3 linked regions of the Homo sapiens genome follow. The main gene of each other region encodes a partner of the protein of the gene in region 3 in a complex. Each region holds a gene or a part of one and is shown on either strand. Other genes may lie near its edges. A codon is read from its position in the direction of its gene.

Region 1 (7,520 bases), on a different chromosome or scaffold from region 3:
GACTACACCATGACTTTTGCTGTGCCCCAGTGTAACAGGAGGTTATAGACAACAGTTTTATTTGCATATATAACCTTTGCTTGGCTTATTAACATATTGCTGATTTAAATTCTGATACATTGTCAAAGTAGAAAGCTGTTCGGGTTTTTGGCAAGCCCAGTATAAAAAATGCAGGCATGCAACAAATAGGTAGTGAATATTCACATTTAAATACATGTAAATATAAATAGAATTAAAAAAAAAAAGTTTAGAGACAGGGCCTTGCTGTGTTACCCAGGCTGGAGTGCTATGGGACAATCATAGCTCACTGTAGCCTTGAACTCCTGGGCTCAAGCGATCCTCCTGCTTCGGCCTCCCAAGTAGCTAGGGCTACAGACACATGCCATCATGCCCAGCTAATTTTTACAGTTTCCTTTTGTAGAGACAGGATCTTGTTTTGTTGCCCAGGCTAGTCTCAGACTCCTGGCTTCAAGTGATCCTCCCACAGTGCTGGGATTACAAGTGTGAGCCACCGAGCCTGGCCTCATTTATATATATATATGTGTATATATATATAATATATATAAAATATATTTAATATATATAATATATATAATATATATATAATATATAATATATATTATATATGTTTTTATATATATTATATATTATACATATTATATATATAAAAATATATATAATATATAATATATAATATATATTATAATATATAATATATATAATATATATAATATATTAGATATATAATATATACAATATATTATATATATAAATATATATAATATATAACATATATAATATATACATATATAATATATAATATATAATATATATAAATATATATAATATATAAATATATAATATATAAATATATAATATATAATATATAATATATATAAATATATAATATATAAATATATAATATATAATATATATAATATATAATATATATAAATATATAATATATAATATATAATATATAATATATAATATATATTATATATAAATATATAATATATATAAATATATAATATATAAATATATATAATATATAAATATATAAATATATAATATATAATATATATAATATATAATATATAAAATATATAATATATAATATATTTATATATTATATTATATAAATATATATATTATATTTTAATATATATTATATATATAAAAAAAATATATATAAAACCAAAGAGATTCCTTTTTTTTTTTTTTTTTGAGAAGAAGTCTAGCTCTGTCGCCCAGGCTAGAGTGCAGTGGTGCGATCTCGGCTCACTGCAACCTCCACCTCCCGGGTTCACGCCATTCCCCTGCCTCAGCCTCTCGAGTAGCTGGGACTACAGGCGCCCGCCACCACGCCCGGCTAATTTTTTGTATTTTTAGTAGAGACGGGGTTTCACAAAGCCAGGATGGTCTCAATCTCCTAACCTCATGATCTGCCCGCCTCGGCCTCCCAAAGTGCTGGGATTACAGGCGTGAGCCACCGCGCCCAGACTGCCTGATGTTGCCCTGATTAATTACCCAAGAAGTCTCTTTTTGGGGGACAGGCCATGGGAGGGGGATGAGGCAAGACAATAGTTTGGTGCCACTGTTCAATTAAGAACAACTGGAAACAGGTACCACTGAAATGACCTGCAAATCAATGGCAGAACTGGATCCGATCCAGGACAACTCTGTTGACACATGATTTAGAACGCTGGCTCCAATTCAGGAGGAGGAGCTGTCCTTTACGCTGGGGGAGGAGCACCGTCCCACGGTTCCATGAATTTGTCCTTCCCAGCACTTCGTTCTTGGCATTCTGTGGCGTCTGTAGAGCACATGACAAGCAATTACAGAGCCAGGGGTCTTCTAATATCCTTGCTATCCCAGGGAGGAGGACACAAGCATGAAAGTGCATCCCTGGACTTTTTGTGGTGAAACTGCAGACTTAGATCCCAAGATAACATCACCAGCCTTCTCAGTAAAACAGAAAACTGGGCCATAGGCTGGAAGGAAAACCAGCAGCTGGGACTAGAGATAATTATGTCCCTCTTCTCTTTGATGCCTGGATTTAGCAGTAGGGTGGACGGGGCCAAAGGAGAGGAATGAATGAAACATTATTATCAATTGCTTCAGATTTAATTCTCACTTGCTGATTTAAAACTGTTTTTAGTGTTGGACATTGATCTAAGACTCTTTCCTCAGGGGAGTTAATATAGCAAAGGGAATTTAAACTTATTTTCAGTCTGTTGAGGAGGATTTTACCCTCTTAAGTTGGGATTCTATGTGAATGACTTCAAAGTGCTGTGCTAGTCCTGGCAGACAGACAGAAGATGGGCGGGGAGAATGCCCACCTTTTACTAATTTATAAGTTTCCCCAGTAGGTGTTCTTCTGATACCCTGTAAGAATAAGACATGAAGGTCTGTAAACATGCAAGGCTGGGGTCCACACAGCCTGATCTGCAGTCAGGACTGCCTCTTATCACAGCCAAGCACTTACTAAAGGTCATCTGTGCCCATTCAAAATCTTGTATGTACACCAGACTTGCTATAATAATCACATATCCTAAATAAGGTGCAAGCTGGCCGGGCGCGGTGGCTCACACCTGTAATCCCAGCACTTTGGGAGGCCGAGGTGGGTGGATCACTTGGGTCAGAAGTTCGGGACCAGCCTGGCCAACATGGCGATACCCCATCCCTACAAAAATACAAAAATCAGCCGAGCATTATGGTGTGTACCTGTAGTCCCGGCTACGGCGGAGGCTGAGGCGGAATTGCTTGAACCCAGGAGGTGGAGGTCGCAGTGAGCCAAGATCGCGCCATTGCACTTAAGCCTGGGCGATAGAGCGAGACTCCGTCTCAAAAAAAGATTAAAAAATAAGGTGCAAGCTGATGGAGTAAAAGTGCTGAGGAATAAGCTCTTCAAATCATTCAATGATTTTAAGAAAATTTAGTTGAATGTTTTGGAAAGACTTCATAAAGGTGAGTAATATTTACTATCAAATGGGATGGTAAAGACCATGAAAAAAAAAAAAAAAAGTAAAATCCCTGAAGGATTCTGCATTCAGATGACTCCACAATGTAAACCCAAAATCCAAACTGAAATCGGAGGACCCAGACAGTGCATTATTAATGTGGCATAGGCAAAACAGACAAGAAATTTCAACTGGCTGATCCAGACACCAAGAGAAGACCTGAGCCCTGTGTCAAAAGATGGGTGAACAAATTCACATTTATATAGTTTCGGTTAAAGTAAAATCTTGGAAATCTATGTGTATCATTTAAATGATTTTCTGATATAATGACTTTTTAAAACTGATATATTGTTACTTAGTCTTGATTTAAGCGATAAGAAGGCTTCTTAGGCCGAATTTATTAATTCATAAATGACTATACTTATTGGATACATGGAATTCCTAAGATTCAGTACACCACAAGTTTGCTTTATTTAATCCTTTTCTACTCTACTCTCAACCAACCACCCTGAAATCTGTTTGCCAGTTTACCAATGTCAGCACTCTGTTGAATTACTTCATTTGTAAAATCTCTTCTTTACCTCCTTCGCCTTCCCTGACTGCCATTACTTTCTCGATCAGCCCTCACTTTTTATTCAACGAGTAAACTGGAAAGATCTCTGAACCCGATGTACTAAGCCAGGTCACCCTGCCCGGGATGGCTGGCGGGAAGGCAGGTCAGTTTGGGCTGGTGGAGAGCATGCAGTTTATTCCTGGCATGGAGTGGATTTCAGGAAGAAGATGAGGCAGGGACAGCAGATGACAAATCTCCGCTTGCCTGTGGCAAGAGTTCTGTGTGTACATTTAAACATGGGTGTGTGCAATTTTCAGAGGATCCACTTCTGCCCAGTTTGGTGCAGGGGAGCTGGGTAGTTGCCGACTTTTCCTATCTTGATCCCTACTCAGTGTAACAATTTATCTGTACAACTGATTCCATCACCAGGATCTTTAGACCCCTCTGGTCATTCAGCCAATCACAAGCACTCATCCACAGGACACCGCCGATGATGCCATTTACTGAGCAGTTACTATGTGCTTGGCCCTAGTGAGTACCGGGTTAGCTTGTGTGAACCCCATGGCAACCCGTGAGACAGGTACCATCATACTCCAAGTTGTGGATGACAAAAAACTCTCCAAGCAGCTAAACAATATGGCTTAGGTCTCACAGTGAGCAGGGAGCTGGGATTTGTGCCCAGGAGGCCCGATCAGAGCCTACCTCCTTAACCATTAGGCCAAACTGCCTCCACATGCAGAACACTGCCCTGCACTGGGGACCTGGGGGAGGGTAACAGTGTCTGCCCTTGAGCTGCTCCCAAACCTTCCTTGAATAGCCTTGGCACAAAATGCATTTCTTGGGGACTCGCTGACATGGTGTTTGGATTTCTATCGGGTCCCTGATTGGGCTCAGCATGGAGCCTGATGAAATATGAAAAAAGCAAAGAAAATTAAGGGACTATACATGGAAGTTGTTCGAGTTTGTATTTTGCTGAAGCCCATTCTATCTGCATGCTTACAGAAAGTTTCCTAACTGGAGAACCCAGAAAGCTCAAAACCTGTCTCAAATTCCTCCTCACACTCAGTTGGGAGCCATCTGGGCAGGCAGGGAACCTGGCAGAGGTGGCAGGAGCATGGCACCTGGAGACAGGAAAGGAATTCTTGGACAGCAAACTCTTTGGCAAGGCAACAGGGGCGAGACAGAGGATTCTCAGGTAGCCCCAAGGTACCACAGTATAATGGAATACTTATTGCAAAGCCTGGGCCCCAGGAAGTGAGAAAAGCCTCCCAGGCCCATCTTTGCCAAAAGATTCTTACAAGAGGACTTGCCTATGCCCACCCAACTCAACCCACACCCACAATCTCAGAGCAGGCCTCATCAGTGGGCGCCAACGCTTTCACCTTGCCGAGGTACAGAACCTAAGCTGGGGATCTGATGTCCCTAAACCTCAGAGACTTGACCTTGGCCACACTGAATCTACGTCTTGATCCCCCAGTCTTGATTTCCAGCCTTCCCTGGGTCAATCAAACCAGCTGCCCCGTCATATGGCAGAGCAGTCCAGAAACCCTGGATTGGGGGAAGAGGTTTAAGGACCTTAGGAAGAGATATTTGCTCTTTGTTTTATAAACAGAGCACCAATGTAGAGTGAAATGCCTTGCTCTCTGTGTCGGGGCCAGATAAGAAATTGAGAGCTTTAACTCCACATCTCCCTAACCTTATTCTGGGTCATGCTCCGATTACAGACTCTTGTAAAAATTCATTTGTGAGACAGTGGTTTTGGAATCAATATTCTACTGGGTCAATGTTATAGATCATATCTGGGTTCCCAGACTAGTCCACAATGGCCAAGTAAACCCACATGTGGCTGAGAGGGGAGGGAACTAGTGTCAGGCAACCAGCTCCACCACCCACTGGCTCTGTGACCTTTAGCAAGTTACTAACCCTCTCTGTGCTTCAGTTTCCCCATCACGGAGATAATAACAGCACCTGCTACATAGCGGAAGTGTTGTGAGGATTAAATGAGATAATCTTAGCAAGCACTTAGAATAGGGCCTCCTAAAAGACACTCAATGAATGTAATTAAGATAGCAGTGCCAGTGTCAACCCCAGCAGTGGTGACATTGGGACTGGGTCATATTTTGATGTAGGAGACTGTCCTGTGCCTTCCTTGTAGGATGTTTAACAGCATTCCTGGCCTCTACCCACAAGATGTCAGTAGCACCCTCCCCGAGTTGTGAAAACAAAAACATCTCTCTAGACATCTCAGTGGCCCCCAGTTGAGAACCATGGTTTTACAGGAAAACAGCTGAGAGTCCCTGCTGGAACATGAGGACTCCTCTCCCTGCTGCAGCCCAGCTGGTGAGGCTGGGGTCTTCTCTTCCCGTCACCTGCTGAGGTGCCCCCCAAACGCCAGCTCCATGTCACTAGTGGAAGCACCTAACTCCTGGGCATGGCAAGTTAGGAGTGGCCAGGGGGGTGTTTCTGGGAGTGTGAGGGGGCTTTGGGGGTCTCTGAACACGGTGATGAGGAAAGTGGTGGTGGAGGAAAGAGCAGAGTCAAACGCAGTTTCCCACCTGCTTCCCACTGTATTTCCCCATTTATCCTTCATGGATAAAATCCATTTGGTATGGACCGAATACCTCTTGTATGTCTAGCACTGTATTAGGCCCCTACGGCTGTTTTTATTTGTTTTTGAGTGATTCTTTTTCAAGGAGGGAGTAAGGAAGATGCTAAATAAATACATCAATAGAAGGCAAGGTCCAGTTGGAAAATTATCACATGTCCAATTGGAAAAATAACACGTGTTCGTACATATAGCCACAGAGCTACTGAAACCACACACATAAATGCTGAGGGAAAGTGGAATAAAACAGTTTCTTTAAATTTTCAACAAATGGACTGTAACAACAGATGTTAAAAAGGCAGAAGGAAAACCACAATCTTATCCCATCTCCAGGCTGGCACCGACCTCCAAGGGCATGAGGGTCAAAGGGCACGTTTAATAGAAAGGCCACTTTTTCCAACCGGAATAAATCTAACCTTTCCTCAATCAAAGCGATTCTAAGTTTTCTAACAATTTATGGGCAGTATCCATTTCTTTTGTTCCTGTCGGAGGAGCAATGCCTGATATTAGAAACCACTTAAAAGTCACGCCCTTCCAGCAGGAACAGTCATGGACTGTCACTCATCCAAAACCCAGCAAAGCCAACAAGCCCCTTCCCCAAATCGTCCAAAGGTGAACCCAAGAGCCAAGCCAGGTTATTGCTATATAAACATCTGTTAGAGAAGCAAACTTGGCCAAGGAATGTATGAGCTTCAAGAGTCACTCCGGACCTGCGTAGCAGGGGTGGGGGCAGGGGATACACTTATCTGTTTATCCATTAATTTGTTTACGTAGAGGGAGGATTTGGAGATGCTTATACAGTAAATATAAGCAGCTTATACAGTAATTATAATACAATGCTTATACAGTAAATACAATGCTTATACAGTAAATATAAGCAGCCATCACAAAACACAAAATGACACCCCAGAATCAACCGCGGTAGGAAAGACATTTCCCTGTCTCCTGTAGGATGGGTCAGTTAAGGGGCCGAGGGGGATCAGATAGAACTCAAATTGGTCCTGCTGAGCCTGGAGCCTGAGCACGCAGAGGGGTGAGCTAGGCAGTCGCTGTCGGAGCCCCCATCATCCCTTCCAGCCTGGACCATTCTGAGACGGAGGTTTGGAGTTACAGGTGTGTGAGCGCCAGAGGGTGAGAGGGGTCACTCGCTCGGAATGTAAGAGCTCCCGCCTGCTGGGAATGGGGAGGAGTCGTCGATGGCCCCAGGATCCGTGCCCAGACATTTCCAGAGGCGCACCGGCTGGTTCAGCACCCCACCGTCATCCGCGCAAAAGCTGCATCCCTCGAGGTCCTGGAGGGAAGCCATTTCCTTAAAGCGCGCGCAGAGCCAGGATAGAGTTTCCTACGAAGGACCGTCCCCCTGAGGTTCCTCCATTAACAGCGCCCCCGGCCTTGCCCA
Region 2 (8,322 bases), on a different chromosome or scaffold from region 3:
TTTATTGCCTAGTCCAGAGCCTGACACACAGAAAAAGCTGTTTGTTGAATAAATGAATAAATGTATTTGTTGAAAATAAATGCATCGGCCAGGCGCGGTGACTCACGCCTGTAATCCCAGCACTTTGGGAGGCCGAGGTGGGCGGATCACCTGAGGTCGGGAGTTCGAGACCAGCCTGACCAACATGGTGAAACCCCGTCTCTACTAAAAATACAAAATCAGCCAGGCATGGTGGCGCATGCCTGTAATCCCAGCTACTCAGGAGGCTGAGGCAGGAGAAGCGCTTGAACCCAGGAGGCGGAGGTTGCGGTGAGCCGAGATCGTGCCATTGCACTCCAGCCTGGGCAACAAGAGTGAACTCCGTCTCAAAATAAAATAAAATAAAATATATAAATGCATAATCTCTCATAACCTCTCTTAACTGGTTGTGAATTCCTTACGTTTCACATTTTCTGACATACCTTTGGAATACTTAGGGGAAAACATCTTACCTCTCACAGAAACTAAGGGCCTAAAAATGGCTCTTCTACACCCATCAAAAGACTAAGAATCTAAAAGACATGCCCCCCTCTACCCTCTAAAAATGACTCTTTGTCCTAAGAATATGAATAAATCTCCATCTGCCAGACTGCACTAAATACAGCTTTTATATGCATTACAAAAACACCTGTATAAAAAAGCTGCTACAAAACGAGGTTTTTGGAGCCCTAAAGCACAAAACCAACAGAATCAAAACCAAACAAGAACAAGGAAAGACTTTTAAAACTGACAGTATTTGCAAAATGTAAAAATTCAATAGGTCTTTGGCCAGCGGTTTACACAGCTAAACCGAGTTTTTCCATTGACATATATTCCCCCAAATGTGAAGTAAAGATTATAGCAACATGATTCTAATATTTACAATGTGAAAATGAAAAGGGGACAACAACCTCTGGCCATCTTGAAGTAGAATAGAAACAACCTTTGTTCCTACTAAAGTTCTGTTGAAATACCAAAACCATCCCCAATATTCCTACACAAGAGTTAAAACACATACCAAGCCTGATAAGACACAAACAACAGGAAATTACCCTGCACAGTTTCTTAAAAGACTATTATTTCATGAAACTTACAGACTGTGTAGAGACATGACCACTTATGACTAAGTAAACGTAGGTTACAACCTTGAAAACCCAAACTTTTGTTGAACACCTACAATGCTTGTGGCCGCACTTTAGAAGGTGTGGCTAAGTATAAAAACCAAGCTCTAAGAGCAATTTCTTACTAAAACCCCAAAATGAACGTTTCCAATCACATTACATTAATTAAACCTGGCCAGTGAACAGCCTTGAACTCAATTAAATCCAGCAGAGTTTAATATTTATAGTAAAAGTGGGCACACTCTTTAGAAATGCCGAAAGATGTGAACTATTTATATTTACTACGACAGCTAAGTTTACGGCAACGGCTAAGGAACTTTAAAAATAAAAGTATTACTTTTGAATTTAATATAAACGTTTGCTAAATGACCTTCTGGCAGAGGAAATTCTTTAAATATCTTGTATGGGTTTTCCGAAGGCAAATTTTTTAAATACCCTCAAACTATGGTACATTTATGAAGCCCATTTTAAATTACTTCTCCCATCTCTGCTTCATCTGCTTCACTAATTCATGTATTAAAACTGTTGAAACTCCATTTAACTATTTGACTAACTTCTCTGTAAGATGGAAACTTTTTAAAGGGTGTTAAAGTAGAATAGCAAATTTTCAGCATAATAAGAGCAAATTTATTACTAGGCTCAAGGAAAACATCCTATCAGCGATTCATTCATACGAAACTATCAGGTTCAATTCATATGAAGTCAGAAGAGAGAAAAAGAATTTTGGAAATTAAATCACATTTCAAAGACCATTTCTAAAAAGATGTAATTATTCCAAGTTATTTATTTATTAACAATTATTTTACACATGTCGTTTTAAAAGTTTCACAAACCCAAATTTAAGATAGTCCAAATTGCAACAAACAAGACATGACTTTGATGGAAAATGCTGCTTGCAAATTCGTTTTACCTGGAAATTTCTTTTTTAAAGGTATGGTTGACAACACACTGGTGGTATTTTGCTTTTAAAGGGTCAAGAGAAAGGAATAACAAAACCAACCCAGGCATTCTTTTTCTGTTTAGGATCAAAAGGACATTTTAAGGATAAGTAAAAGACAAAAGTACCTGACCCAAAGACAATATCCCCCTCCAAGAGAACAAAGTAAGTTGCAATTTTAAAAACCAAGTTTGAAATACGAGAAATCACTTCGAGGGCTTTCCAAAGGCGTGTGATAAAAACTAATAGGCTCCACCCGCAGAACAACTTTCACAAGTGAGTGAAGGATGATCACAGAGTTATCAGCTGTGTGCGTGTTTGTGAGTACACACAAGCCATGGAAAACCCGAGACTACCACTGTTAACAAAGGTTACGAGACCAAAAAAAAAAAGTGGAGGCAAAGTATTACGCGTCCCTAACAAGGCTTCCCCACAACTCCTGAAACAAGAGCTCTGGCCCTTCGGCTTTAAAAATCAGAACCACAAACTATGGAGTGTGAGAGCAGCGAGGGGAAGGGACGCAGGCAGCCCCCGCCCCCGTCAGCCTGGGCGGCAGCGCAGTGCAACCGAGCCCCGTCCCTTCCCGGCTCTCCGGCCCCGAACCCGCACGCCCGGGCCGGCGCACCCACAGCCCCCGAACTCACCACACCCCAGCCCCCACCCGCAGCGGCCATGTGACACGGCCCATCGCCCCGGCCGCGGACGCACGCAAACACTTCCCTAGCTGGAGGCCCGCGGGCGCCCAGGCTTTACCTGCAAGGTGGCGCCAGGTCCCGCCCCGTCAGATCCGGGGGGTCCGGGACCTTTTGTTCCTTCCTCTTCCGATGGGATGGAGGGGGCTGGGAGGGGAAGAGGGGAATGGGCGATTGGAGGCGGAACTGAAAACACTCCCGGCCGCCGTCTTCCCGCCCCGCCCCCAGGCCCGGGCCCGGCCGGCGGCCCGGGCGCGCGGGAGGGTAGGGGAAGAGAGGGGAGGGGAGGGGAGGAGAGGGAAGGGGAGGGGAGGGAGCCTGGCCGCCGCCCGCGGGGAAGGAGGGGGTGAGGACGCGCGCGCCCGCGCTGCCCCTCCTCCCCTCAGGCGCGCGCCCGCAGCCCTACCGGCCGCCCGCACGGCCGCGCCCTCCCCCGCCAGCCCACCTCCGCTTCCGCCCTCCGCCCTCGGCCGCCGGCCGCCGCGGCGCCACGCACCCACCTCCCGGCGGCTGGCGGGCTGCTGGCTGGCGAGCTGCTTCTCCGCCGCCGCGGCCGCGCGGGTAGACCCGCCTGCCACCCTGGGCCGCGGGCCCCGCCGATTCGCCGGCGCAGCCCCGGGGCTGGCACCCTGCCGCCCGCTGATTGGCGCCTCCAGCCGCCCGTTAGGGCGCGAGGCACGCCGGCCGAAAGCCGCGCGGGGCGGGTATGGAAGACGGAGGGAGCGGAGGAGGAAAGGAACGAGGCCGAGCACCGCGGGAAGGGCCGGGGGGCGAGCGGGGCGCGGGGAGTCGCCGGCCACCGCCTCCCCACCTCCCTTTGCCTACGGCCCGCCCCGCCTCCCGGCCGGACCGGCGGCGCCCGCAGCCAATCAGCACGAGGGAAGCTCGGGGTGTGAGCCGCGCATCGGGGGCCTCGAATCGGAAGGGAGACGTCGCTCGCTGATTGGTCCCGCCTCCCCAGTCTAGCGTGAGGCGAGGCGGGGCGCGGCCGGGCGGGGCGGGACGCCCGCGGTTTCGCTTGAGTTGGGCGCCGGCGCGCTCCCACCGGGGCTCACGGGCGGAGAGGGAGAGGCCCGCGCCTTGCCGCGCATTAAGACGATTCCCGGTGACCGCCCGATCCCTCGCCAGCGTCGTGGGTGGGGCCTGTAGGGGCCTGCCGCCTCGTCCACCGTCCGTCGTGAGGCCGGCAGCGGACACGTGCTCATCCCACGGGGAGGCCCCGCGCAGCGCGGAGGACGCGCCTGAGAGAGAAAAGGGGTTCGGGAGAAGCCCGAGGACCCGGCCCGTGACTGGGCGCGCCCTATGCAAATGAGCGGGCGGGGCCCTCGTGTTGCTGAACGAGGGCGGGTTCGCGATGTAAATAAGCCCAGAGGTGGGGTCTTTGGAGAGCACTTAGGGCCCGGGTAGGGGATGCCAGGTATAAGTGTTTAACCTAAATTTTGGTTCCGTCTTCAGTAAAAATGATATCAATAATCCATGTCCCGAAGGGTCTTTGTGAAGTCTAAAAGAAACATCTGTCACGATGTCCCTTAATGGCTGGGATATCTTCCCTTCCCCTTTTCTCCACTGTTGCGACGATTAGGCCCCAACTTGCACATCTGCCCTACAGGAGGCAGCAAGGCCCTAAACTTACGGCTGCCCAGAACATAACTGCACCCAGGGAAAACCTTGTTGCGGTTACCCTTAGGAACACCCAAGCCTCTGCTGACAAAATATTGAGCCCAACTAATCACATCAGGTGTTTACTATGCACCCACTGTGACACAGGCAGGGAGTACCGTAGAACTAAAGTTGAAAAGAAACTTAGGTTTCACACAGGTGCCAGAGACAAGACTAGAACACAGTTTTTTTTTGGCTGCCTGTCCAGTAATTCATTCTCATGTGTGGCTTAGTTTATAGATTTAATTGGGGACTTCAAATAAGCGGGAAAGAAGCACTAGCAATACAAATCGGTAATCAGGAAGTACCAAATGAGCACTCCAAACAGTAAGAGTTTTTGAAGTATACGCTTTCTTCTGAGAAATGAACGTGTCCCAGAGGAGGGTGCCTTCAGATGGACCTTAAGAGAGATGTGGCCATCCCCTGAGTCATACAAGTTTTCCAGATGTCCTTTCAAAATCTCTGTCCTTTCCACCGTCTCTGTCCTCACACATAGAGGAACTTTTCTCACGGGAAGGTTGCGATGAAGAGCATAAACCCAGGAGTCAGGCACGTTGTAGCTTTGAGTACGACTCTGTTCCAGATCTGTAATCTTTGGCAAATGGAACTCACCTGCAACGATACCTACTTAAATATAGTTGTGTGATGATTAAATAATAAATATGAAAGTAAATAACATAGGGCTTTGAAGTTCAAGGAAAGTCAGTGATCATTAACTTCTCTTCTGTTGCGTGCGAACATTTATGCTGAGACGAACCTACTCAGCAGAAATTCTTCCTCCAAAAATTCCCTTCCAGGGTGGTTTCTTCCATTGTTAGTTTAGAGGCAGCTCTACTAACCCCTTAATAAAAATAAAAAAGTTTGTGAAGGACACCCAGGAAGCCATTTGGTGGAGCTGTCCCACCTCCTCTGCCTTGTTTCCTCTTTCCAGAGCCACTAGGGAGGACGGTCCAGGGCAAAGGCTGTTCAACTTACAAGTAGGAAGGCTGTTTCTTGTTTTTGGTCTGTCTTCCTGCTAATACAAGTCAACAGTTGTAATATGAAGTAGCATATTAAAAGCTACCCTGGTCACACAAGTATTTTCTCCTGTGTGAACAGGGTGTGGATTTGGGTGTCCACCTGAGTAGTAGAAATAGGAACCAAAGCAGGCCTGGCTGGGATTCCAGAATGTGCTCCTAGTATGGAAGTTAGGTACTTTGAGGTTACATTAATTAAGTGGGTAGTACGCCTGAGGTCTAAGTTAGACCATTTCTCCAAAGTCTCAGACTTTGGGTCCATAACTCTTCCATTTAGGAAGCCTTCCAGGATCTACAATTGAGGAAGAGGGAGAAGGGACAATCTGGCTACCAATGCAGTCCCCAAGGGGCTTAGAAATGGGAGCATGCCTACTGTCCCCTCTGCTAGAAATGCATCTAAACCAAAGTGGGTCAAGACAGAAACTGAAGGCACATAGAGCAGGGATTGCTATGGCAACAAACAGCTTGGAAATCCACTAGGGTACCTCAAGATCTATCAGTAGGTCCCTATTGTATAAATTAGATTGAATGAGTCTTATTTTTATATGGATAGAGACCAAGTTTAACCCTTCATTAAACATGACACTGCAAAATCAATTACATCCAAATCAATTCAGAATCCAATTCAAAAGTAGTTAAGTGCACTGGAAAGACACGAAAGAAAAATGATAATGGTGGTTGCTTCTGGAAAGAGCCTGAGGGTCATAAGTGGAAAATTTAAATTTCATCATTATTTCTTCTGTAGTTTGATTTTTTTGAAAAAGCTCACTGCCTTGGTTCAGACTTCATTGTCTTTCATTGGAAGTACTGCTTTAGCTCCTCAGCTGGTCTTCTTGCCTCCACTCTTGCTGCCTTCCAATTCATCCTCCTTCCTGCTGCCAGAATTTTTTTTAATAGCATATTTTCTAAATGTAAATCTGATATCACTACCTTGATTGATAGTTTCCTTCTTCCAGTTTTTTTTTCCCCAGGGTAAAATCAAGACTGTTTAGCATAACCTAAAAGATCCTTAATGATCCATCCCAGGCCAGTCTCTGTAGTGTCACATCTCAACACTCCCCACCTTGCTCCCTTTTCCCCAGCCAGAATGAACTCCTGACAGTTTCCCTAATCACCATGTTCTCTCGTTCCCCAGTGCCTATGCTGTGCTCTTTGTTCTGCTAGAAAGCACTTGCCCTATGGTGCCTGACCAACCTCTGCTCATCCTTGGAAGCTCTGTATAGAGCTTCAGTACCCTCATTTATTCATTGAACTCTCTATCCATACATACAAAGACACACACACACACACACCACACACACACAGTCATGATCTTTCAAAAAACAACTCATATTCTCCCCTTCTGGTAAATCTTTAAAGCCCTTTCTGGCTTCCCCAGCCCAAAGCTATACCATTCACATATGAATTTTCTCTCTTATACTTACGATGATATACATACCATTCATTTAGTCTTGAGCAGTTTTTTTTTCCAGCTTCTCCTGTGTATATATATTGTCTCCCCATCTAGATTGTAAGTTCCTGAAGGACAAGGACAACTTATTTTCACTTGTCTTCCCCTACCCTTACCAAAATACTAAGTAATTGAAGAAAGATGAAATACAGCATTTGTATAAAAGAAAAACATGTCACAGATCTGCAAACATTCTACACAGCTTTGCGCCCATTCTTCCGGTTTATAGTGGCCCTCCATACAACTGTTGGGTCTCTTTTCAACATCATTTGCTCATCCTAGTGGGATTAAATTGCAGTGAGCATTACTACATCTTAAGGAAAGATCCAGTTATTTGCAACTGAGAGGACCCTGATTAAATGAGATAAGTAAAAATTTTAAAGAACAAATGCATGGGCTTACTTTTATTGTAAATAATAAGGAAGAAATCCAACACCAGCTAGATATTTATATTGATACAATGAAATTTCAGGTTCCAAATGAATTTATGTTGCAGATTTGAACATATGCGCCCCCCCCAACACACAATCCTTATTCATGTTAGTTTTTGCTAAAAAGAAATAGTATTTCACATCTGATAGGAAATGCAGGAGACAGGAATAAGGCATATATGAGAAAAAAACTTCAAATGTAACAAGTGTTCATCAGGTGTCTGTCATGCACCTACCACAGAAGCATTGGTTGATCATAGTGGAAAATTCTCACTCTTTGGCCAAAGTCACTCAAAAAAAATAAGACAGGATTTTTTATAATTAAAGAGAGAAAGAGATTAAAAGAGAAGTTGGCTCGGATAAAGACAAAAATATATGGCAAAACAAATTATATTTCTCATCATTCTCCAGGCATCTTACTATTATATTTCTTATCTCTACACTTAAATGGATAAATAATGATTAGATGAATAGATCATTGGATAACTCAGTGACTGTTCAAATATTATTTGGAAAATTACAATACAATTCCAATGCAATGAGCTCTCCCATAAAGGCATTTAAATATCTGAGATGTACATATTTTGAGAAAAGAATAACAAAGGCCAGTGTCTAAACCCTGAAAGAACAATATACAAATTGTTTGAAGTTCTGTTGTGAGGGGAGATTATTTGGTAGTCACATGCCAACAATTGGGCCTTATGCTTTCATTATAATTGTCTGTGGGTGACAATATTGACTGAGCCAGGCTGCTGCTAGGCAGGATAAGTGTATGAAGGTTTAATACTCTTGGAAAATTTCAAGCTTATTAGCATAATTGCTGTGATGAAGACTGAAGAGCTTACTTAACATAGCTGACTAGAGTAGACAATAGATGCATAAGCAGTGTCCTAATTATTGAATTAATGAGTCCCAATTGTTTGTCCTTACTGTAAATGGTCCTTGCTATGAAAAAGACATTTTGCTGAAGGAGTCTGACAATTGTGTTAGCTGACAAG
Region 3 (7,520 bases):
GGTGAGAGCCACCGTGCTTAGCCCTTTTAAAAATGTTTAAAAATTATTATTTAGTCCTTTCAATGACCCTAAGGTAGGAACTGTTATCTCCATTTTGCAGGTGAGAACACCAAGGCCCAGGGAAGATATATCACATTTGAACCCAGATTCAGATTTGAATCCAGGTGGCCTGGCTGCTGAGTGCATGGTTTGAGTCACTCCCTGTCCCCCAGCTTCCTCTGTTCCATCACTCTGGGTTATTTTCCTCCTTGAAGTTATCAGGGATTGATACTATCCTGTGTTTCATTTGCTTGTTTAGCACCTGTCTGCTCTCACCTAGAATGTTAGCTCTCTAAGGGCAGGGACTGTATCCTGCCACATTGGCCCACGTCTGGAGAGCCTGTGGCACATGGTGGATACACCATGGATTTGTTGAATGAAGGCGCCCCCTGCAAGCCAGGCCCTCACCCTGGCTTCTGGCTGTGGGCCCAGGGGTGTCCTGGGAGCACAACCCTAGCTGAATTCCTGCCTGCCCTCCCCTCCAGGCCGAGTGTACTACTTCAACCACATCACTAACGCCAGCCAGTGGGAGCGGCCCAGCGGCAACAGCAGCAGTGGTGGCAAAAACGGGCAGGGGGAGCCTGCCAGGGTCCGCTGCTCGCACCTGCTGGTGAAGCACAGCCAGTCACGGCGGCCCTCGTCCTGGCGGCAGGAGAAGATCACCCGGACCAAGGAGGAGGCCCTGGAGCTGATCAACGGTGAGCAGGGCGAGGGCAGGGGCTTGGGAGGGGGTCTTCTCCCAGGTGAGCCTTTGTAGAAGTCACATCAGACCCTTCACCCCAGCTTGCTCAGCTGCCAGGCGTGGTGTTGGCCAACACAAAAACGCCAGTGCATGACCTGACCCTGACCTTCACAGCAGCCATTCTCTTTCTTTTCCATCTGGCATTTGAGGGTGAGCCAGGTAGGGGCAGAGGACCCAGCCTGGGGGCTGGCAGACATGGGTTCAGGTAGTAGCTGTGCCTCTGTGAACTCTGTGACCTTTGGGAGGGGACTCGTGTCACCTCCCCTAGACTCAGCTTTCTCTGTAAAATGGGCATCCTCTAAGGACCATTGTGAAGGTTCAAGGGAATAAGGCAATGGATTTTGCACAGTAGGCCCTCAGTCTGTGGGAAGTGTTGTCAATAGTAATATCATCCACTAGGGGCCTGAGTCATAAACATAGGTGGATCCAGAGAGAGCAGTCAGGAAGGTAGTGAGTGCATGCAGGGTGCGGTGGCTCACGCCTGTAATCCCAGCACTTTGGGAGGCCTTGGAGGGCAGATCACCTGAGGTCAGGAGTTCAAGATTAGCCTGGGCAGTATGGTGAAACTCCATCTCTACTAAAAATACAAAGATTAGCCAGATGTGTTGACGCATGCCTGTAATCCCAGCTACTCGGGAGGCTGAGGCAGGGAGGCAGAGGTTGCAGTGAGCCGAGATCGCACCACTCCACTCCAGCCTGGGCAGCAAAGTGAGGCACCATCTCAAAAAAAAAAAAAAAAAAGAGGTAGTGAGTGCCAGTAGATAGTGAGTTAATTCTGACCTAAGGGAGGAAGCTATTCCCTGCTCTGTTCTGTGTTTCCTCTGCAGTCTGGCACCAAGGTGGCAAACTTTAAAGGCCAGATGGTAAATATTTTAGGTTTTGTGGGCCATGCAGTCTCTATCAGCTCTGCTTTGTAACTGGATAGCACTCATAACTAATATGTAAGCAAGCACATGGTCATGGCTGTGTGCCAAGAAAACTTTACTATTTACAAAATCTGGGAGGATTTGGCCTGCAGGCCATCATTTGCAGAGCCCTGTCTAAAGCTGTCCAGTTTGGCTGCCACTCCCACCCTGTGCGGGAGGATCACTTGAGCCCAGGAGTTTGAGACCAGCTTGGGCAACATAGCAAAACCCCGTCTCTAAAAAAATAAAAAAATTAGCTGGACATGGTGGTGCACGCCTGTAGTGTCAGCTACTTAGAAGACTGAGGTGGGAGGATCCTTTGAGCCCAGGAGGCAGAGGTTGTAATGAGCCGAGATCACACTACCGCACTCCAGCCTGGGTGACAGAGCAAGACCCTGTCTCAAAAATAAATAAGATAATATCAAAAATTGGTTTCTCAATTGCACTGGTCATACTTTAGCTGGTGGCTGCCATCTTTGACAGCGGGAATATAAAACATTTACATTCTTGGCCGGGCGCGGTGGCTCACGTCTGTAATTCCAGCACTTTGGGAGGCCAAGGTGGGTGGATCACGAAGTCAGGAGATCGAGACCATCCTGGCTAACACGGTGAAACCCTGTCTTTACTGAAAATCCAAAAAAATTAGTCTGGCATGGTGGCGGGCACCTGTAGTCCCAGCTACTCGGGAGATAGGCAGGAGAATGGCATGAACCCGGGAGGTGGAGCTTGCAGTGAGCTGAGATCGTGCCACTGCACTCCAGCCTCGGCAACAGAGCGAGACTCCGTCTCAAAAAAACAAAAACAAAAACAAAAAAAAACACTTTTCCATTCTTGCAGTAAGTTGTGTCTGATGCCTTTCTCAGAGTCCCCAAACCTGGGCTGTCCCTACTCCAAACAACCCATCTCTCAACCATGCCCAGACAGCCTGGGTTGCTATGCAGCTCTGCCACGTCCTGGCTATGTGCTCTTGAGCAAGTTACTTAACATCTCTGGGCTTCAATCTTTTTCTCCTTCTTCTTTTGAGACAGGGTCTTGCTCTGTCACCCAGGCTGGAGTGCAGTGTTCATAGCTCACTGCAGCCTCAACCTCCTTGGGATCAGGTGATCCTCCCACCTCAGCCTCCCAAGTAGCTGGGACTGCAGGCTCATAACACCACACCTGGCTGATTTTTGTATTTTTAGTAGAGACAGGACTTCACCATGTTGCCTAGGATGGTCTCAAACTCCTGGCCTCAAGTGATCCTTCCACCTCAGCCTCCCGAAGTGTTGGGATGACAAGCATGAACCACCGCCCCCAGCTGTCAGTCTTTTTCATTTATAAAATTAGTATTAGAATAATAAGACCCACTTCACAGGGTAGTTGTGAGGACTCCTGGCTAATACAGTAAAGCGGGAGTAACAGCTCCTGGCATCGGTAAATGTTCTGTCATTGTTAGTGGTCACTGTCATTGCTGTTGTTGGTTGTGGTAGCACAGGGCCCAGCACAGAGTGTACACTCGGTCAGTATTGGCTGTTGTTTTACTCTCTCATCACTTGGTCCAGTTGGCCTGTAGGATGTTATTACATATGCACACCCCCAACATGGCATCTAGGACAGTAAGTGCCACCCGTTAGTCTTATATGTAAGCATGGCAGAGAGAAGCCGAGTTCTTGCACAGAATCTTGAAGGCTGATTGAAGAGCCAGCCTCCTGACCTCTGAGGGCAGGGACTGGATCTCTCTCTTTCCCCTGTATTCCCATCCTGCCACACAAAGCCTGGCCCAGAGTCAGCCCTCACAGCCTTGTTTCATGAGCCAGTAGGAAGCAAGAAGGATTCCTGGCACAGGACGGGGCAGAAGTAAAGGCCTAGGACTAGGATGTAGCCAGAACTCTGGGGAAGGCTTTGCAGGGAGCTAGGGGGTGATGAGACCCTTCACGGGCAGGTCCCAGCCAGGTTGAGGAGGGTCCTTGTCAGGTGAGGAGGTTTGGTTCTTTCCTGGAGGCAGCAGGACATATGTGGCCATGTGGGACCAGGAGAGGAACCCACAGTGCTCTGCTTTCAGCAGAGATCTGTGAAGCTAGAATGTCAAGGGCCAGGGAAGTGGAAGGCCCAGAACCTTCAGGGGTTCTGGTTGCCCCAGAGCAAGAAGAAGAAGTGGAGGGAGAAGCCAGGAGAGAATTGCAAGATGACCCTTCAGGTCCTCCCAGCTCTAGTGGTCTCTGTTCTGAGGCTTCCGGACCCTATAAGAGTGAGCAGGAGGGTGCAGGCATTTGGGGATGGAGCGGCATGAAGTGGGCTCCTGGGGGTCAGCAGAGCAGCCAGGCGCAGGACAGAGCTGCTCCAAGCAATCCTGATGAGAGCTGGCAGAAGGCTGAGGTCGGTGGGGATAGTGAGGAGGGCATGGGTCTGGGTGTGGTGGGCGAGGGTGTCTCGCCCATCTCTGGGTTGGACAGGTGCACCTGGTAAGTAGCCAGGCCCTGAGGCGTCACCGTAGGTACCTGCAGATTCTGGAATGTCAGCAGGAGCCTTGCCTGCCCACCTGGTGGAAGCTGTGGGAGGAATTGGAGCAAGAGGCGGTGTGACTTGAACTTGGGGGCTGGAAGTGGAAGAAGAAGTGAGAGGGAGCAGACCCGAGAGAGATTCAGGAGGCAGGATAGAGAGGACTGGGTGATGGATTAGGTGGGCAAGGGTGGGATGTCTGGGGGAGGGTCAGGGCAGAACAGCGTGGCCCACCCTGGGCTCGTACAGGGCTGGATTTCAGTGCCAGCTGTGTGGTCTTCATTTCCTGAGCCTCAGTTGCCTCATCTGTAGAATGGGGAGAGGGTGGCTATGAGGATCCAGGAGCTATGGGCTCAGTGGCTGGCGTGCTCTGCACGGTGGAGCCTCAGCCCCAGTCATTGGGGTGTGGACGATGGGGGAGCTGAGGTCAAGTCAAGGCCTCTGCTCACGGGCAGCCCCTGCTGCCACCCCACAGCCCGTAGAAAGAGTTCCGGATAGGACCACAGGAGGCCTGGTGGGCTCAGCACACAGATGATGACCTTGGCACACGACCTCCCTCTCCTGGTATCCTCCTGCCTGAGACGGTGCTGGGGCAGATCTCCTCAGAGGTCGATAGGAGGATGCAGTGAGGTGGCCCCGGCCGAGGTACACTCGGTAACAGATCATCATGTGCAGTGTCGGCGCAGGCATTGGGCACCTGGGCCTCATTTTCTCTTCCATGAAGTGGATGTTCTCCCCTCGAGGGTTCATGCCGGGTGATCAGGAGACCATGATTTGGGCAGCTCACTCCCCAGCTGGCAGCCGGGCTAAATCTCATCAGTGCCCATTTAGATCTGGTGCTCCGCCCTTGCCCCGAAGGGACAGGCTGCCTGCAGAGAGAGCCGGGACCTCCACATTTTCTGCTGAGGCTCCTTTTCCCAGCATTGGCTCCTCTGCAGCTGCTGGGCCACAGCCAGAGGCTGTCAGAGATCCAAGGGAGTCATTGCCAGTGTCCTTGTCTAAGGAGGATGGGCCATGGAGAAGCCCTCCCTGCCCGCTCTCCACCCAGATCTGTTGACAGCCACCCCTCACATGCCCAGGGCCTGGAGGGTCCCAGCAAGGCTGAGACTATGAGCAGCTGTCCTACTCACATACCCATCCCAGCATCCAGGTCAGCCCCTTTGTCCTGGGGTCCTCAAGGTCACTGGCGCCCTTCCAGCCTGCTGGCCTTGGGCCAGCCTCTAGCCCCTCCTTCTGGATCTTGGTCTTCTCAGATCTGACCCTGTCACCTCTTTCCCCGACCAGGCCCCTTCCCCTCTGGTGCCTGGGCAGCCTGGGGGAAGTATGCTGGAAGCAGCGTAATGATCTGGCAAGGCAGAGGAGACAGCACGTCTTGAAACATTTTTGGGGTCAAGGACTACCCCATTTGTTCCCTCACTCCCACCTAGGTCACTGATGTGCATTAGCTTGGACTGTTGTAACAAAATATCACAGACAGTGTGGCTTAAACAACAGTCATCACTTTCCACAGTTCTGGAGGCCAGAAGTCCACAATCCAGGTTCCCTCAGATTCTGTTCCTGGCGAGAACCCACTTCCTGGCTTGTAGACGGCTGCCCTCTCACTGTGCACTCACATGGCATTCCCCAGGCGCATGTGCACGGAGTGAAGGAGCACGAGCTCTCTGGTGTCTCTTATAAGGACACTAATCCTGGCCAGGCGCAGTGGCTCATGCCTGTAATCCCAGCACTTTGGGAGACTGAGGTGGGTGGATCACCTGAGGTCAGGAATTCAAGACCAGCCTGGCCAACATGGTAAAACTCCATCTCTACTAAAAATACTAAAAAAAAAGCCAGATGTAGTGGCGCACACCTGTGATCCCAGCTACTCAGGAGGCTGAGGCAGGAGGATCGCTGGAACCTGGGAGGCAGAGGTCACAGTGAGCCGAGATTGTACCACTGCACTCCAGCCTGGGTGACAGAGCCAGATTCTGCCTCAAAAAAAAAAGGGGCGCTAATCCTGTTGGATCAGGGCCCCACCCTTATGACCTCATTTAACCCTAGTTACTTCCCCAAAGTCCCCATCTCCAGATGCAGCCACACTGGAGGTTAGGGCTTTAACACATGAATTTGGGGTGACACAAACATTGAGTCCATAACGGATGGGCAGCTTGGATCTGTCAGGGGCCTGCTCTGCAACAGCCACTGCTTAAGCGGTCACTGATTCACTCCTTGGAACAGGCTCCAACGTGGGAGCAGCGGTTACCCCATTTTACAGGCCAGTTGAGTGAGGCTCCAAGAGGTAAAGTCACCTGCCAGACTCTCATTGTTCAGGAGCAGCAGAGGTAGGATCTGGACCTGATGGAGTCTGGAGTCAGCACCCATAACATGTCCTCCTGGACCTTGGGGATACACTGTGAGCAGGCTGGCTGGGGTCTGCCAGCACAGATAGGTGCCATTCTGTTTTGCATACTATTTCAGGGGGTCCTGAACACCTTGAAGCAGGTGGAGGCCCCTGCTCCAGACTGGGAGCTCCTGGAGAGGCCACCCTGTGTCTGTGTGGTTCTAAGCTGGAGCCACATCGAATCAGGATGGGGCTCCAGCACCCGACAGTCCCCATCAAATTTCACAGGTTTTGGCGCCGTCGGGCAAGGCTGACACATTGTCTTGGAGGAGGCCCAGGAAGTCTGGCCTTAGGGTCGCAGCCTGAGTTTCAGGCAGATAGGGCATGAGATTCCAGCATTTCTGCTTCGAGCCCCGTGGTAGATCCCTGTCTCCCTCCTTCCCCATGGCCTATTTCTGTCTCATTTATTCATTAACTTCTTGAACATTCGTGAACACCTGTTTTGTGCACAGTGCTGGGTTCTGAGGGTGCAGCAATGAAGAAGGCCAACCCAGCAGCCTCCATTCCTGCACTGTGAGGCGGGCAAGCAACACACCAATGGGACGGTAGTAAATGCAGCACCCAGGGGGAGGCACCTAACACAGTGGGGGATTAGGGGAGGCTTCTTGGGGAGACCAGAGGATAGCTGATGAGTTTCAGGCAGGACAAGAGGCTTAAACCAAGGTCTGCGAGGTGGGAGTCGGAGGATGTCATTGTCGCGGGGTCAGGTACAGGCTGAGCTAACAAGACACACAGGACCAAACCCCTCAAGGTCAGCCTCACAGAGCAGGAACTCAGGAAGAAAGCGTTTTTGTTTGTTTGTTTGTTTGTTTGTTTGTTTGTTTGAAATGGAGTTTCGCTCTTGTTGCCCACGCTGGAGTGCAGTGGCAACGATCTCAGCTCACTGTACCTTCTACCTCCCAGTTTCAAGAGAAAGCGTTTTTTTGTTTGTTTGTTTGTTTGTTTGTTTGTTTGAAATGGAGTTTCGCTCTTGTTG

Evidence for each region.
Region 1: the proteins of PIN1 (region 3) and MAPT are in contact, whole or in part, in an NMR structure (PDB 1I8H), measured with the Homo sapiens proteins. Residues at the interface, in NP_006212.1 of Homo sapiens: Arg17, Val22 (codon at 530), Ser32 (codon at 560), Gln33 (codon at 563), Trp34 (codon at 566); in NP_058519.3 of Homo sapiens: Val546, Arg547, Thr548, Pro549, Pro550, Lys551, Ser552, Pro553.
Region 2: the proteins of PIN1 (region 3) and SMAD2 are in contact, whole or in part, in an NMR structure (PDB 2LB3), measured with the Homo sapiens proteins. Residues at the interface, in NP_006212.1 of Homo sapiens: Glu12, Arg14, Met15, Ser16, Arg17, Ser18, Tyr23 (codon at 533), Phe25 (codon at 539), Trp34 (codon at 566); in NP_001003652.1 of Homo sapiens: Pro218, Glu219, Thr220, Pro221, Pro222, Gly224.

What each region holds. Positions count from the first base shown.
Region 1 is NC_000017.11:45,897,422-45,904,941, reverse strand, and holds part of MAPT (microtubule-associated protein tau), read right to left. Parts: exon of another isoform or gene 6,144-7,520; intron 1-6,143. UniProt on the Homo sapiens protein: Promotes microtubule assembly and stability, and might be involved in the establishment and maintenance of neuronal polarity.
Region 2 is NC_000018.10:47,927,532-47,935,853, forward strand, and holds the start of SMAD2 (mothers against decapentaplegic homolog 2), read right to left. Parts: upstream 3,129-8,322; 5' UTR 2,830-3,128; intron 1-2,829. UniProt on the Homo sapiens protein: Receptor-regulated SMAD (R-SMAD) that is an intracellular signal transducer and transcriptional modulator activated by TGF-beta (transforming growth factor) and activin type 1 receptor kinases.
Region 3 is NC_000019.10:9,837,912-9,845,431, forward strand, and holds part of PIN1 (peptidyl-prolyl cis-trans isomerase NIMA-interacting 1), read left to right. Parts: intron 1-100; coding exon of another isoform or gene 101-164; intron 165-524; coding exon 525-737; intron 738-7,520. UniProt on the Homo sapiens protein: Peptidyl-prolyl cis/trans isomerase (PPIase) that binds to and isomerizes specific phosphorylated Ser/Thr-Pro (pSer/Thr-Pro) motifs.